2 separate regions of the Homo sapiens genome follow, and region 2 is linked to region 1. Evidence: fine-mapped QTL for protein levels in blood plasma. A gene starts in region 1. The other region holds a variant in brackets. All regions are shown on one strand. Distances are from middle to middle.

Region 1 (8,697 bases):
CCACTGCGCCTGGCTTAGGTATTTTCTTATATGACCACTAAAGTGCAAAGCTTGTTTCCATTATTAATGCATCTTGGTTAAATAGTGCTAGCTCTTTCTTGTGTGCTGAGCACGTTGGGGACAGAAGGAGGAAGAAGAATTTCTACTTGGAAATATTCATAGTCTAGGAAACATAAACACCAAAACAGGCTGGGCACAGTGGCTCATGCCTGTTAATCCCAGCACTTTGAGAGGCTAAGGTAGGAGGACTGCTTGAGACCAAGTATTCAAGACTAGCCTGGGCAACATAGTGAGACTCTGTTTCTACAAAAAAAAAAAAAAAAAAAAAAAAAAAAAAATTAGCTAGGCGTGGTGTTGCACACCTGTAGTTCCAGCTACTCAGGAGGCCGAGGTGGGAGATGGCTTGAGCCCAGGAGGTGGAAGCTGCAGTAAACTGATGACACCACTGCACTCCACCCTGGGCAACAGAGCGAGAATTTGTCTCAAGGGGTTTAAAAAAAAAAAGTATAGGGCAAGATGTGTGTAGGTTATATACAAATAATATGCATCTTATACAAGGGACATGAGCATCTATGGATTTGGGTTCTGCAGGGTTCCTGGAACCAATCCCCTGCAAATAACGAAGGGAGGGACAACTGTATAAATTCTTGGTCAATGCGACAGTTGAAAGTAGCTAGAACCTTAAGGTTTATTTCTTAGATGGTGTATAGTTGAAAATCATCTCATTAAAATACAACTCACTTTTCTTCCGCAAACCTATACTACATGAATGAACTGCACTAAATGGACATTTATTCAAGCCAATAAATATCGAATTCTGATGTGTGCTTGACCCTCGGGACACAACAGTCAAGATAGATTTGGCAGCTGCCTTCATGGAGTTTCCTGTCTGGCAAGGAAGATCTTGACAGGCAGGAGTCTTTAGGTCTTAAGGGCTTTGGGAAACTGAAATCTAGCCCTGTGAACAAGAATAAACTGGATCTGTATTTTCATGCTGTCTGCTTTTAAAAACTGGCCATAATTGATGCTTATGGGGCATAGAAATCACAAGATTTTATAACTAGAAGGGACTACAGAACTTATTTGATTCCATTAATAACGTTGCAATTTGGGAAACTGCGGCTAAGGGATAGAAAAGGATTGATCTAAGATCACACAGCTCATTAGTCATTTCTACACAATACAGTGTGCAATAGAAATAAGTCTGTTTTGATGGCCAGTCATAATCACACCTCTTTACAGAGGCCCAAAGGACTAGCAGCACTTTTGTTTTCCAGTTCTGACACTATCAAGATCAAGTGCAGAGGGGTCTCTGCAGCCAAGGCCCCTCAATCTCGACCCCCTACACTGGGTTGAATTACATTGCTATGGGTTTCCACAGAATCCCCAATATCCCTTGATAACACATGCCATGCTTGTCATTCTTGATTAACATCTGTGTCCGTGGTGAGGAGAATGAATTGAAGGCAGCAACCGTGGCTGCAGGAGACCAATCAGGGCCTAGTCCAGGTGTCAATGATGGAGATGGAGAACAGATGAATTGGAGAGTTTGTTGTTGTTTATTTAGAGACAGAGCCTTGGTCTGTCACCCAGGATGGAATGCAGTGAATGATAATAGCTCACTGCAGCCTTGAACTCCCGCAGTCGTCCGGCGTAGCTGAGATTATAGGTGCGGTTTTGGCCGACTTCTATTTGAAGCAAAAGGTAAATTTCACTAACTCCTCTTCAAACATTACAAATGAATTTGTGCTAATTGAGTTATCAGCTGATGTCTCAAAAAATGAGACTCTACTTGATCTGTCACTATGGTTTTGTTCACAATTTTCATATCCTTTCAGCTATAAGTTTCTCTTAAAGAGAAATGGAAAATAATATAATGTAAACGGGGATAACTGCATAGTACTGACTGCTAGCTTGTGTTTGATTTTATTACTTAAAAATTGAATGGGAAGGAGGAAAATACTAGAACTTAAGACCACAGTTTCTAGGGGAAGCTAAGAAGAGAAGATGAGGATCATTGTTCAGTGAGGAATGTGGTTAGATAATGGTTTTCAGTGAAAGCTAACTTTGAAATTTCCTGACATTTGTATTGAACAATTGCCAAAAACTATCTGATATGCATCGCTAAGGCTTACTTTATCATTTAAAATGACAGGAGTCAAATAGGATGTGATGAGAAGTCAAATCACATTGTTAGCTCCATGAAAGCATAGATAACTCATTCCAGTATCTCCTAATAACCAGAACCTACAAAGAACCTACAACATGGTGACATGCTTGAATCGAAGCAGCTCAATGTTCTCATCCTTGGTACGTTTATTTTAAATTCACGAGAAAAAAAAAAGTGTCAACCCCTTTCTCTCAAAACAAGGAAAGGGTCTAAAAGTCAGTCTTTGAAATAGGGGTCTCCAGCCAACCCCCACGATGATACCTGGATTAAGGAATGAGGGATACTGGAAAAACAAAAACCCCAATGTATTATTCTGACGACTGTAAACAGCCATCCTATTAGCGATAACTAAAGAAAAAGCTGGGGAAAGTTAAAGGCAAAGTGATATACGGATGGCAGCTCTCAGTCTCAAAAAGGCCCAGTGGAAGAGTCTGAACTGACTCAGGGCAAACACAAACGCTCCCGCACCGGGTCCGTTGTGGCGTAAGCGGGTGACTGGAGCATCTTCCTCAGATACAGTTACGAGTTCCCAGTGGGTCAAGTTGCCCCCGAGCGGCGTCTCACAGCCCAGGGCTCTGACTCCCCCGCTGCGCCCCACATCCTTCCCTCGCCCCGGGGCACGCCAGACCCCTCCCTTCCCTCGCTCCCGCATTTCCGTCTCCTAGTGGCCAGGGCTGCCCATGACCCTGTCTTTCCCACTCCCCAAACCTTCGGTCTCCATCCTCGCCTTTACCGCTGCTCCAGTCAGCCGTCGAGTGCGCCGCCTCGCGCCTCACCCCAGCTGCAGCCACCAGCGCCGCCGCCTCCCACTCACACCACCACAGTGAGCCCCGCCGGCGGCGCTTCAGCCGCCACTTCCCCGCCCCCGCAGCCCGACAGCACCAATCAACACCCTGCTCGCAGTCCGACCAATCGCCTTCTCCCGTCACAACCAATCCTTCCGCGGGCTGCCCCTGAGCGACGTGGCTGCTGCTAGCCGCTGCCCAATTACCCGGATGGAATCCAAAGCAGGCCCACCCTGTCAGCCAATAAGATCCAGGAAAAGCAGATGTTGTTAACTGAGACCGCACCTGCTGAGAATTAAACAGCCAATTACAAGCTTCCCGGCGTCCTCGCAGACCACCTCTAGGCCAATTACCGAGGAGTTTTCTATCTTCTAACCCTTGGAGGAAAATCTGCGCTCCAGCAGCTGGGACCGAGGCATGAGAGCGTTGAATCATGAGTGGCACCGTTCGCAAAAATTGGTGTCTTTGTACAAAGACAGTGCCACAACACAACTCAGTGACCATCGGGAGAGCAGCCTCATGATGGGCGATGCTCCATCAGTTTTCTCTTGCGATCTTTTGCATAGATCGGTCCCGCCCCGCATATGGCGATGAGGACTCAAGAGACACGGAAAACGTTTTCTTTCTGGAAAACATGAAATAGGCTTTGTAGATGGACAGGAAGTCAAGGGACAAGCGGTGCGCCGCAGAGAGCGAGGACCCACTCTTCTATTCCTTTGCGGAGGCACGGACACACGGTGTGGCCCGAAACAGCGGCAGGAGAGTGAGACCCGGGCTCCGACCGCGGTGGTAAGGGGGCGGCGGGCCATAGGGGCGCCAGGGGCCCACCCTTCCCTGGGGATTCGAGGAAACGGGTCGAGGCGACAGCGTGAAGGCCTACGCCGGGGGAGGGGGTGGTGGCGGGGGGCGTTTCTGTGGGGGCGAGGAAGGGAGCGGGTCTCCGCAGGCGGAAGTTTGCTTTGGAAGATTTTATTCCAGACGCTGTCCTGGTCCCTGGACGGTTAGGAACGGTTGGGTCCTGCTACTGCCTCCGTGGGGCAGGGAGCCTCGCGAGACCAGCACTGCGCCCTACTCGGTCCACCCTGTCCCCGCTCCGCGCTAGGGGCTCACCCTGGGAACAGGGGTCGGGCGATCCTGGTCATTGGGGGATCTTCCGCACTAGCTTCCATCACAATACCTGGCAGGTGATGAGCAATAAATATTTGCTGAAAGAACGCAAGGTTGTATCTTTTGTCAATTAGGCAGATGCCTTTGGGCCTCAGGTTTTGCTTTCTATTAATATAAAAATGTGTATGCGTTTTGAATAAGTAATACATTTACATTCTACAAAATTCAGAAGAAACAAGGTTATTATAGTGAATAAATTTTCCTTCCTTCAAGGCAACTAGGGTTACCAGTTTCTTGTGAAAAATTTCACAAGATATTCTATAGTTAACGTGTGTATATGTGTAATATATAAAGTGTATATATATATACACACACATATATTTTTTTAACCCAGTTGATAACATACATACTATTTTGCAACTTTCTTTGATACAGTCTGGAAATGTTTCCGTAGCAGCATATACGTATCTGCCTCATAGTGATAGTTTCATAGTATGCCTGAGGGATATATGAAGATATATTTAACCAGTCCTTTAACATTTGATTGATATGCAAGGATACTTCATTTCCCTCTTGCATATGTGTATGATAAATACTTAGAAATGCAAGTGCCAAGTTAAAGAAATGTGTGCATTGTTTTTTCATTTGGATAGATAAAATTTTGTAAATTCCCTTCCTCCCACAAAGATTTTTATAATTTTAATCCCACCAGCAATTTTTGAAAATGATTTTAGTTAGTATTACCAAATTGCCTTCCCTGGAAATTTTACCAATTTTGTCTCCTGTCAGCAATGTATGAAAAGAACCTGTTTGATAGCACACTGGTGCTGTTAAACTTCCTGATTTTTGACAATCTGATAGTGTAAATGCTATCTCATTGCAAGATAAAATTTCATTGCTCTTATAAGTAAAGTTGAGCATCTTTTAATATATTTAAATGGCAATTTTTTTGTAAATTCTCTGTTTTTATATTCTGTTCATATTTTTATTGGTTATAGGGTCATTTCTTAATACTTGCTGTTTGTATATAAGTTAAAAGTATTTTCCCCGGCCAGGTGTGGTGGGTCACGCCTGTAATCCCAGCACTTTGGGAGGCTGAGGCAGGCTAATCACCTGAGGTCAGGAGTTCAAGACCAGCCTGGCCAACATGCTGAAACCCCGTCTTTATTAAAAATACAAAAATTAGCCGGTTATGGTGGCAAGCGCTTGTAATCCCAGCTACTTGGGAGACTGAGGCAGGAGAATCACTTGAACTGGGGAAGCGGTGGTTGCAGTGAGCCGAGATTGCCACTGCACTCCAGCCTGGGCAACAGAGCGAGACCCCATCTCCAAAAAAAAAAAAAAAAAGTATGTCCCTTTTCCCAGTTTGTTCTATGTATATTGTTTATACATATAACAAGTATTTTCCCTTTTCCAAGTTTGTTCTATGTATATTGCATATTTTGAGGCTGGTCTCCAACTCCTGACCTCAGGTGATCAGCCTGCCTCAGCCTCCCAAAGTGCTAGGATTACAGGCCTGAGCCATTGCCCTCAGCCTGTTTATGGTTATTCTTTGCAAATGTTAAAAATTTTTATGTAATTGAATTTATCAATATTTTCTTTGATAATTTCTGGGTTTCTTTCTTTCTTTTTTTGAGGCAGAGTCTCATTCTGTCGCCCAGGCTGGAGTGCAGTGGCATGATCTTGGCCCACTGTAACCTCTGCTTCCCAGGTTGAAGAGATTCTCGTGCCTCAGCCTCCTGAGTAGTTGGGATTACAGGCATGTACCACCATACCTGGGTAATTTTTGTATTTTTTAGTAGACTCGGAGTAGTTTTGCCATGTTGGCCAGACTGGTCTCAAACTCCTGGCCTCAAGTGATCCACCCGCCTTAGCCTCCCAAAGTATTGGTATTACAGGCGTGAGCCACTGTGCCTGGCCAACTTCTGTGTTTCATATAATTTTTAGTAAAGTCTCCCACTATTTAAGATTATTCTTAAAGCTCCTATGTTTTTTTAAAAAGTACTTTGATAGTGTCTTTGTATATGTAAATATTTGATTCATCTGGAATTTATTTTGGTGTAAAGGTGTGAGATAGAGATCCAATTTTGTTTTGTTTTATTCAAATCCTTCTTATTGAATAACCCATGTTTTCTCCATTGTTTTTGAATGCTACCTTTATAATACCAAATTGCCATATGTATTTGGGTCTATTTCTGGATTTTTTTCATTTTGTTCCATTGATCATTAATTTTTTTTTTTTTTTTTTTAGACGGAGTCTCACTCTGTCACCCAGGCTGGAGTGCAGTGGCACGATCTCGGCTCACTGGAACCTCCAACTCCCTGGTTCAAGCGATTCTCCTGCCTCAGCCTCCCGAATAGCTGGGACTACAGGTGCCCACCACCACACCTGGCTAATTTTTTGTATTTTTAGTAGAGACGGGGTTTCACCGTGTTAGCCAGGATGGTCTCGGTCTCCTGACCTGGTGATCCGCCCGCCTCGGCCTCCCAAAGTGCTGGGATTACAGGCATGAGCCACTGCGCCCGGCCTAAAAATTTTTTAAATTGTATACATTATGGTTTTTTTTTTTACCACAATTTAAAAAATTAATTTATAATATACATGCAGAAAAATGCACAAATGACAAGTATATATCTTGATGAATTTTCACAAATGGAATACATTTGTGTAACCAGCAGCAGATCAAGAAACAGAACATTGCTAGTGCCCCAGAAGCCACTTGTGTGTTCCCTCTCAGTCACTGCTCTTCTCAAGGACAACCACTCTTCTGACTCCTGATACCATAAACTAATTTTGCCTGTTCTTGCTTTTTATATAAAGAGAATCACAGAGTATGTACTCTTTTGTGTCTGGCTTCCTTTGTTCAAATTATTTCTGTGAGATTCAGCCATATTGTGTATAGTTTTAGTCCCTTCATTCTGACTACTGTGTGGTATAATATTGTGAGGCTATATTGAACCATAATTTACTCTTCTATTCTGTTACTGTTATTTTGGCTGGAATCACATATTTTTAGATTATCTAAAGGAGAATGTATGATAAGAATCTTCCTATCTTCCTATACATTCAAGTCATTGGTACCCCATCAGTAGAATTTTAGTTTTCATTATGTAGAATTTACATACTTCTTATTAAAATTATTCCTAGGTATTGAGTGCCTTGATTGCTATAGCTATTTTTACTTTAAAAAAAGTAAAATGGTAGTTCAAATCCAAGGAAGAATGTGTCCAGTGTTGCTATAAAAATACAGACCTACTTTATGGGTCCATCTTCTTCTAGCTCCAGTGAAGGTGGGATGGGCAAAAAAGAGGAAATGAAGTCCAAAAAGGGGGTTACACTTTATAGTTAAACCACAAGAGGAATTTATTTCTTTTTTAAGACAGAGTCTTGCTCTGTTGCCCAGGCTTGGGGCAATGGCATGATCTCTACTCACTGCAACCTCCACCTCCCGGGCTCAAGCGATCCTCCTGCCTCAGCCTCCCAAGTAGCTGAGACTACAGACATGCACCACCACACCCGGCTAATTTTTGTCTTTTTAGCAGAGATGGGGTTTCACCATGTTGCCCAGGCTGGTCTCCAGCTCCTGGGCTCAAGGCATCCACCTGCCTTAGCCTCCCAAAGTGCTGGGATTACAGGAGTGAGTCAGTGTGCTCAGCCTCACAGGAGGAATTTCTTAATCAGAGCAGTGAAAAGCCAGGTGGCATCACTTTTCCCGGATTTTTTTTTTTTTTTTTTGAGATGGAGTCTCACTCTATCATCCAGGCTGGAGTGCAGTGGCACGATCTTGGCTCACTGCAACCTCTGCCTCCCGGGTTCAAATGATCTTCCTGCCTCAGCCTCCCGAATAGCTGGGATTATAGGTGCACACCACCACACCCGGCTAATTTTTGTATTTTTAGTAGAGATGGGGTCTCACCATGTTGCCCAGGCTGATCTTGAACTCCTGATCTCAGGTGATCCACCTGCCTCAGCATCCCAAAGTGCTGGGATTACAGGTGTGAGCCACTATGATCTTATTTTAAAATGAGATTTATTTGATCTTATTTTAAAATCAGATTGAATTCTAACTTGCTGGGTAGGGAGGTTGGGGAGCAGAAGAAATAACTTCGAGTGAGCTGATGCCAAACTCACCCTCAAGTCACTGTACATTTGGGATTTGTCATCTCATTTCTCCTCTCAGATCCCAAATCAGGATTGAAAGATTGAATTGTGAGATGCTGGGATTGAGTGAATTGTAATTTCTTTATTCTCATCTCCAGTCCTAAGAGTCTATTCTCTTTCCCTGAAGGGTGTTCTGAACAGGCTGTGGGAGGCATTAGGTGGAGTGAGTTAAGATAAGTTCTGGGTTTCCCAGAGGGTTCAGTGAGCAGGTGTTCCCTTTAGTAAACTGAAGCAGGAAAGAAGATCTTAGCTAGGGATCTGGGCAGTGAGGGGCTCTGAAATACAAGGAGCCTGGCTCCGGAGCCTTGGCTGCCCACAGAGTTCCTTCCCTGTACAACATACGAATGATTCATTCAAGTGCTGTTCAGCTGTCTGAGTCTGAAAAACAGCACTCATCTCTCCTGTTGCCCATCGTAGGAGTCACCCCCTCCTCCCCACTTAAGCCTCTTCACCAGAAACCAGCGACTGGGAGC
Region 2 (8,697 bases), 19 kb before region 1:
AGTCCTTTCTCCCCAGACCCCTTCTGTGGCTTACATCCAGTGATGTGCAATCTCTTGGCTTCCAAGAAAAATCTACCAAAACTAGTTTAGCAACTTTCATTTCCTGGCTTGGGTGGGTGGAGGGCAGAAAACGACCAATAATATTTTTACTGCTCCAAGTAGGTGTCTTTCTGGATTCTGAGTTGGCCAAATTTTTTTTTCCCAGTATTTATTGATCATTCTTGGGTGTTTCTCACAGAGGGGGATTTGGCAGGGTCATAGGACAATAGTGGAGGGAAGGTCAGCAGATAAACAAGTGAACAAGGGTCTCTGGTTTTCCTAGGCAGAGGACCCTGCGGCCTTCCGCAGTGTTTGTGTCCCTGGGTACTTGAGATTAGGGAGTGGTGATGACTCTTAACGAGCATGCTGCCTTCAAGCATCTGTTTAACAAAGCACATCTTGCACCGCCCTTAATCCATTTAACCCTGAGTGGACACAGCACGTTTCAGAGAGCATGGGGTTGGGGGTAAGGTTATAGATTAACAGCATCCCAAGGCAGAAGAATTTTTCTTAGTACAGAACAAAATGGAGTCTCCTATGTCTACTTCTTTCTACACAGACACAGCAACAATCTGATTTCTCTATCTTTTCCCCACATTTCCCCCTTTTCTATTCGACAAAACCGCCATCGTCATCATGGCCCATTCTCAATGAGCTCTTGGGTACACCTCCCAGACGGTGTGGCGGCCGGGCAGAGGGGCTCACTTCCCAAAAGGGGCGGCCGGGCAGACGCACCCCCCACCTCCCGGAGGGGGCGGTGGCCGGGTGGGGACTGCCCCCCACCTCCCTCCCAGACGGGGCGGCTGACCGGGCGGGGGCTGCCCCCCACCTCCCGGACGGGGCAGCTGCCGGGCGGAGACGCCCCTCACTTCCCAGACGAGGCGGCTGCCGGGCGGAGGGGCTCCTCACTTCTCAGACAGGGCGGACGGGCAGAGATGCTCCTCACCTCCCAGATGGGGTCGCGGCTGGGCAGAGACACTCCTCAGTTCCCAGACAGGGTCGTGGCCGGGTAGAGGCGCTCCCCACATCCCAGACGATGGGCGGCTGGGCGGAGACGCTCCTCACTTCCTAGACGGGATGACGGCCGGGCAGAGGCGCTCCTCACATCCCAGACGATGGGCGGCCAGGCAGAGACGCTCCTCACTTCCCAGACGGGGTGGTGGCCGGGCAGAGGCTGCAATCTCGGCACTTTGGGAGGCCAAGGCAGGCGGCTGGGAGGTGGAGGTTGTAGCGAGCCGAGATCACGCCACTGCACTCCAGCCTGGGCAACACTGAGCACTGAGTGAACGAGGCTCCGTCTGCAATCCCGGCACCTCAGGAGGCCGAGGCTGGCAGATCACTCGTGGTTAGGAGCTGGAGACCAGCCCGGCCAACACAGCGAAACCCCGTCTCCACCAAAATACGAAAACCAGTCAGGCATGGCGGCACGCGCCTGCAATCCCAGGCACTCAGCAGGCTGAGGCAGGAGAATCAGGCAGGGAGGTTGCAGTGAGCCGAGATGGCAGCAGTACAGTCCAGCTTCGGCTTTCACAACTTTGGTGGCATCAGAGGGAGACCGTGGAGAGAGAGGGAGAGGGAGACCATGGGGAGACGGAGACGGAGAGGGAGAGGGAGAGGGAGCGGCCAAACATTTTAACTGTTTTTCTGTGGCTCCTAGTTTGACTGCAACCCTGGAGTACGTGGAAGAGAAGACAAATGTGGACTCTGTGTTTGTGAACTTCCAGAATGATCGGAACGACAGAGGTGGGGATCTGCTGTTCTTCCTTGCTTTTCGCGCTGAGGCAGCTGGATAACTCCTTTTCCTTTATAGGAGACCCTCTTCCCCTGTCTTTAAAAATGCACCCTCAGGCATTTCAGGGATTCTTTTCTTCCCACCTACCACGAAGGTGGGAAGTTGTAACTTGTTCCATCAAGTTACAACTGGACTCTGAGGAAGCCCCTGCAGGTGGTGTTAGGGGCCAGACTGAAGGAGCACTGGTGAAATTACACAGAATCCATTCAAGGGATGTGGCCAGCAGGACAAAATGGATCTCAAACATATGGAGCACCTACAATGTGAAAGGGTCAGACATAAGGCCAAGGGAACGGGGACATATTTAACCGGATGCCTGGAGCATATGTTACAGAAACTATAGCCTCTTGCCTCAAGGAGCTCAAACTCTGTTGGATATAAGGGATGGTGAATAACCATTCATAAGTGATAGATACTATTTCAGAGCTTACTATGTCATCATTGTATTAGTATATAGGTAGACCTCACTAATCTCTAGTGTTAAGCACTTCATGAACATCTCATTTCATCTTAAATTCTGTGAGGAGGAAGGTTCTATGATTTATAAATGGAAAATTCTATAGATGGAAACTGAAGTTCTGCAGGACTAACTCACAGAACAAGTGTTAAAACCAGAGTTAGAGCCTAGGTCTGTTGGACTAAAGCACATCCTATATGCCTGCACTACACTGCTTCCCAGGGCCACTCCCTAGTGGAAGAAATCAAATCTGGGGGCATACATGTATTGAGTTTTAAAGCATGTTCTAATCATTTGTTCTATCCTTTCACAGGTGCCCTGCTGCGGGCCTTCAGCTACATGGGCTTTGAGGTGGTCAGACCAGATCACCCTGCCCTCCCTCCCTTGGACAATGTCATCTTTATGGTGTATCCCCTTGAAAGGGATGTTGGCCACCTGCCCAGTGAGCCTCCTTGAACATGCTTATTCCAACGCTTTGAGGGGCTGGAAGCCTTGACACATGGAATCAGGGGCCCGGGATGTGATTCAGGACACTTTCCATCCTAGGAATAAAGGGTAGTGCAATCATCAAGTGTTCACGGTTTCTTGGGGGGGTGGGTAATAGGGTTGACTGGAGTGGGATATACACCTTAACAGAGCTAAATTCACTGAAAAGATCACAGGGACCTGAACTACGGAGGAAAGTACCTAAGGATTTTTGGTTCCCTTTGCCTTCCTCCATGCCCCAAACTATTTCCCCATTTATTCTAACCATTTACTGAGCACTAATCAGTGAACTTCCTAGTTCAGAAAGACTGAGCTTTGTTAGGCTGTTTTTATCCATATATTTCAGTTGAGGTGCTATAGATGTGGAGAAAACCAGAGAAGGCACATAGATCTCTTGGCTTTGGCCCAAGTTGGGGGATCTCAACGGACAGAATAGGTAACATAGAAGAGGGCATTCCAGGCAGCAGGAAAAGTACTGGGTTATACTAACAGAATGACAAAGAACCCATCAGAATGGGCTGTAAACAGGTAAGACTTAAAGGCATATTAAAGAAAAAGACTTTTATACATAGTAACAAACTGCAGGTAAGAATGAGACATTACTCATTTTCCAGGGTAGGAAGTCTTATGAATGATTTATATCAGGGAACCTCTAAAGAGTAAAGGTTCCCTACGGAACTCTGGTAGCACCAGTTCCAGGGCTGAGCATGCTTCAGCGAGTTCATTGCAGGCAACATCTGAAACATCAAATAAATGGAAGCTCCTTAAAGATTCCTCCAAGAGTACCTGAACTACTCACCAGAACTGTTCCTTCACTAGAGCCTTTCTGCTAATTGGGACTGAGATTTTTCTTTTCTTTTTTTGGAGACAGCATCTTGCTGTGTCACACAGGCTGGAGTGGAGTGGTGCAATCTTGGCTCACTCACTGCACCCTCTGCTTCCCTGGGCTCAAGCGATCCTCCCACCTCAGCCTCTCAAGTAGCTAGGACCACAGGCACACACCACCATGCCTGGCTAATTTTTTTGTATTTACGGGTTTCAGCATGGTGCCAGGCTGGTCTCGAACTCCTGAGCTCAAGCAATCTGCCCGCCTCGGCCTCCCAAAGTGTTGGGATTATAGGTGTGAGCCACC[G/A]GTGCCTGGCTAATACTGAGATTTTTCTGAGAAAATAAATTTTGAGAATTGTGGTTGTGAGAAAATATAGTTGCCATGTAGTATAGAGGTAGACGTTACTAATCCCTAAATTTAAAAAAAAGACCTGTGTAAGGCATCCTTATGTGCTAGTTTTAAATTTTCTAGTTTATCTTGCTTTATCCTTAAAAAAAATTCACTTGCCATTTTTCTACCATCCACATTACTATACATTTATATTTACTTTCAAGCACCTCAAGTACTTCAAGCCTCGCATTTGAGCCTCACAGTACTGTCAGAAAGATGCTATAAGGAAACACGTTAAAATTTTGCAAAAAGTTTACAGTGGAGATCTACTCCTTAAAGATTCCTCCAAGACTACATGAGCTACTTACCAGAGCTGCTCCTAGAATCCAGGTTTCTAGAATCTTAATCTGGGCCTTTTCTTTTGAATAGTATAGGTGGGGTCTTACTCACACAGCCTAAACCTAAATTGGTTCTGGTTCCTAGTGAATTTTTTTTTATGAGACAAGGTTGTGTGGTGGTGCAATCTGGGTTCACTGCAACCTCCGCTTCCCAGGTTCAAGTGATTCTTGTGCCTCAGCCTCCCAAATAGCTGGGATTACAGGTGCCTGCCACCACGCCCAGCTAATTTTTGTATTTTGTATTTTTGTATTTTTTTGAGACAGAGTCTCTCTCTGTCACCCAGGCTGGAGTGCAGTGGCATGATCTCAGCTCACTGCAACCTCCACCTCCCAGGTTCAAGCAATTCTCCTGCCTCAGCCTCCCACGCAGCTGGGACAACAGGTGCATGCCACCATGCCTGGCTAATTTTTTGTATTTTTAGTAGAGACAGGGTTTCACCATGTTGGCCTCAAGTAATCTGCCTGCCTTAGCCTCCCAAAGCGCTGGGATTACAGGTGTGAGCTACCGTGCCCAGCCAGTGAATGGTTATTTCTGAAGTGACTTTAGAGAAAGAATATGAATGTGTATATGGGAGGGACACTTGTTTCATAGATGTGATCCTTTCTGTGAGGCAGTTGGCAGTTTTCACCAGATTTAGGCTCACAGCCTGCTTCCACCTTGTGATTCAATCAGAATTTGGTTTTAGAAAATTTTCTTGAGAACTTTATTCAGCAAAAAAATCCTCCAAATGATTCAAACAGGACTGTATACTCTTCCTCTCTCTCCACGGGTGTATATGTGTGTATACATATAGATATTATACTAGCAATTTAGAAAATTTCCTGAGCCTCCTGTCTCCTTTCTACTTATATTTTAACTAAAGGTTACAGAGAAATAGCTGGAGCAGTTTCAAAAGCCTGTCTCCAATAACATATCAGCAATTGAGGCTGGGAGGCAGTATTCTCTTCCCACTTCCTGAGGCTTTTAAATATAATTATGCTAATTTTTGCCTTTGCCTCCTGATTCAACTGGAGTCTTTGAGTTCACCACTCAAAAGCTTTCCTTAACCAGAGTCACCTGATAAGGTGAGTCAGAAGTCTGCAGAATCACTTCCAATGACGAAAGCCTGACTGTTTCCCAGCCTCAAAAAGGATACAGCCTAGTAGTAATGTGAATCATGACTGGTAGAGGGGACTGAGCCTGACGTTGAACGGCCTGGAAGTAACACAGCAGTATTCAAACACTGGAGGGTTGGGGAGGGATCCGGAGGTGGAATGGGGGAGACACACTTGTAGCGTGGTAGTCCAATTTTTTTGTAGTCTGATGGGAGGAGAATATTAATTTGGTCCACAGCAAGCCAGACTATATGTGTAATAAAGGAAGGACTGCATGGATCCTTTATCATACACTCCTCTCCTCCATGCACCAATTCCTATGCCAAATCCTGCCAAAGACAGAAATACACAAAAAGCTTGAAAGTGCTCAATCTGAGAGCAAGTTAAGCTGCAGGAAAGCAGCTGCAGAGAAGTATATTAAGACAGGGCATGGGAAAGAGGGAATCAAAGCAAGTGCCCCACTGTCGCCCTCATTACTTTCCTGTTGCTACAGATAGATGATAGCTGCACTCACACAGCAAAGCAGATGGCTGAGCAAACTGAAGCCCAGACTTCAGAGTAAGTAGTCATCTTCAAGGTTATCATCACCAGACATGGAAGCAGCTTCTATTGAAGATAAATAAGAAGGAGAAAGTTAGACACTGCCCTATTCTAGCAGGCAATGCCAGCGAGGCTCAAAAGAAAAATGGACCTCTTGGTACTCAATGACCTGACTAGGAACCAAGCCTTCAATTAACCTCCCTACTCTGGAAAGACTGAATGAGAAAAGTTAATCTCCAAAGATGCTCTAGGGAGGAAATACTGCTTGTACCTGATAAGCTGAGGCAGGACAGGGTATGTGTTATCTCTCCAGAGCTCTTTTTGGTCTCAGTGAGCAACGTGCTGAGAGAGGCATCTGTTTCTGTGGCCTGAGTGGATGAAAACAGGAAAAAAGGAGGAACATGTTGGCTTTTAGGAAAAAAGAGGCCACCCTTTCATTCTTCTCATAGGACCTGGTTAAGGCAGTTGCATTTGGCTACCAAGAGGGACAAAATGCTCCTTTGGTCAACTACTGGAGGAGCTCAAAGTCCTTAGGAAAGCTAACACAGTATCAGGACTAGAAGCCCTTAGTGTCTATGTGCTAGATTTGCCTGGAAGCAGCACCCTATATAACTACAATAGCTCACCATGTCCTTCAACATGTCTGGGACAGCTCTGTTTTCTTCTATGTCTTCAGGAAGCTCAATTGCGTATCCTTTGTGTACTAATTCTAGCCCAATATCAAGTTTCTGAGAAGAAAAATGAAAAGGGAATGATGTTCTCTCAGTAAGCAAGGGCAAATTTGAGGAAACAAGGCAGAAGGACTGATACTTTAAAGACATTCCTTTGGTGAGATGGTGAGAAGGATCTTACAGTAAGAGTAATATCAGATAAGGGTTTCTGAGGAAGAAAAAGTAAATTAGGCTATAAATATACTGAAGATATGGCAAGCAGTGAGTGAATGCCAGTCTTACCTTCCCATTGCTAGTATCATATAAGTAGATCTTTGGCCAAGTTGAGATCCCAGTCTGGACATAGCTAGAGATCTTGGCTACCAGAGGCTTCCAGTCAGCACAATGAGTGAGTCTATCAAACTCATCCAAAGCTTCCTCTTCCCACTGGTCACCTGGCAAAAGATTGTAGGGGTTACTGCTGATAGGGGTGGGGCTTATACCCTGGAGGGAAGTTGGAACTACCCTTTTCTACTCAGGAAGGCACCTGTGTCTTCTCTGGTTGGGTTGGGTCTGCCAGGCAAGTTTCTGGCTGCTGCTAGTGCTGGTGAGGAAAAGGCACCTGAGTCCCCAGAATTCAAAAAGCCTGGGAATGTGAGAATTCCTTCCAATGAACTGTATGAAGTTATTCTATTTGGAGGTAAGCTCAATAGATGGCATGACCAATTTACCTGAGGGAGCAATCCGTGCCAGACTACATTCTATTGCTTGAAATGGAAGGCTTAGGAAGTCACTCCTGAAGTAAAAGAAACTAAAATTAGAATCCTGGGGCCAAAAACATCTTCTTACATTGCTGCTTTCAGAAAGAACCAACTAACATGAGACGATAACCATCTGCTCTCTGTAAACAGGTTCCCTTCCAAATCCCCCTGACAACTGCCAACAGCTCACCACCCTATGGCCAGAACTGAGTCAGCAGTTGGGATTGAGCTGACCTCAGCACTGACCTGAGAGCCCTGAGGTCCTTCAGTGGGCAATCTCCATTATCTCCAAAGTCAACAAAATAGAGGTCCAAGTTCCCATTCTCCAAGGTGCCGAGGACCCGGGCTCGATACCAGGAACCATTTGTAGGTAAAGGTGCTGCTACAATGTCTCCTACATGCACAGTCAAGTCTTCAGGCTGTATGTGGGGAGGAGGAGAAAGGCAGAGAGTTACAAAGTGGTAGGCTCATAAACAGAATTGCAGGAGGAAGAAAGAAAAGTAGTTGCTCCACAGGGAAAGGAAGAGTACAATGAAAAAGATATGCCTTCTTTTCATTAAACCCCAGCCCTGTCCCTATGGCAACTCACCACACTATTCTCATAGTGCTGGGTCATCTCATTGACAAGCTTATCCAATTGCAGGCTGCGGGAGCCAACGATCTGGATCCAGAAGTGGTTAGGGTGCTCAGAAGCAGAAACGTAGACTTCTAGGTACTCATCAGCATGAAAACTGAAGTCAGGACTGGGGACTGAACACAGAGATAAGGATGGTGGCCACATCAGACCCATCTCTGGTTGGAATGAAGAGACTAACCAGGGTAGTGAGAGGTACAAATACCAATGGCTGTTACCATTTTAAAATGGCAGGAGAGGCAACTGGATGAATCAAACAAGAATATCCTAAAGAAAGATACTAAGCTATCCTTTGTACCTTTCCATGTAACTGAGTAATAACAGCTTACATTCTTTGTCATGTGCTACATAGTCAAATCGGTCACCAATTATACAGAAGGTAAACCTCCATATGCTAGCTACAGCATGGATCAGTAAAAAGGTATATGGACAGCAATCTTTACATGGACAGTGACGGACATGGACCTGTTCCAGATCCCATTCTACCACTGACTCTTTACATGACCCTGGACAAGTCTGTGAGCTTCTTGGGAATCCAGGTCCTCTTTGCCCACGCCAAAACCTATGTACAGAAGAGAAAGCTCACAGCCTTTTCAATAGTGATGATTTTTAAAAACAGTAATGAAAAAGGCAATATAAAATCTGGCTGAGAATTTTACTTGTTGATAAAGTATGTCTAGGCTGGGCAT

Direction of the effects. Positions count from the first base shown, and alleles are read on the strand shown. Strength reflects both the effect of a copy and how common the allele is.
For the plasma level of the protein whose gene starts at base 2,999 in region 1, A is the high allele of the variant in region 2 and G is the other (strong association).

The links. PIP is the chance, under the fine-mapping model, that this variant and not a neighbour inherited with it causes the effect. The UK Biobank Pharma Proteomics Project read protein levels with antibody pairs (Olink). The fine-mapping took linkage between variants from a reference panel, not from the people measured, so its PIPs are less certain.
Region 2: its variant is fine-mapped to the plasma level of the TDRKH protein (UK Biobank, PIP above 0.99).

What each region holds. Positions count from the first base shown.
Region 1 is chr1:151,787,502-151,796,198 of GRCh38, forward strand. TDRKH (tudor and KH domain containing) reads right to left here and starts at 2,999. Exons shown (of 13, transcript NM_001083965.2): 1 at 2,879-2,999. It overlaps TDRKH-AS1 (TDRKH antisense RNA 1), which reads left to right and starts at 3,248. Exons shown (of 2, transcript NR_146292.1): 1 at 3,248-3,744; 2 at 6,314-6,901. RefSeq lists a silencer at 2,684-2,943.
Region 2 is chr1:151,768,476-151,777,172 of GRCh38, forward strand. OAZ3 (ornithine decarboxylase antizyme 3) reads left to right here. Exons shown (of 5, transcript NM_016178.2): 4 at 1,697-1,782; 5 at 2,602-2,855. The coding sequence ends at 2,744. It overlaps TDRKH (tudor and KH domain containing), which reads right to left. Exons shown (of 13, transcript NM_001083965.2): 7 at 7,964-8,124; 8 at 7,621-7,793; 9 at 7,345-7,409; 10 at 6,917-7,068; 11 at 6,590-6,691; 12 at 6,235-6,331; 13 at 5,019-6,029. The coding sequence ends at 5,977. Among named protein-coding and RNA genes, the nearest start is that of OAZ3, 6.2 kb to the left of the region's middle. RefSeq lists enhancers at 595-1,291, 1,292-1,986. The variant G/A (reference allele first, on the strand shown) is at 3,907.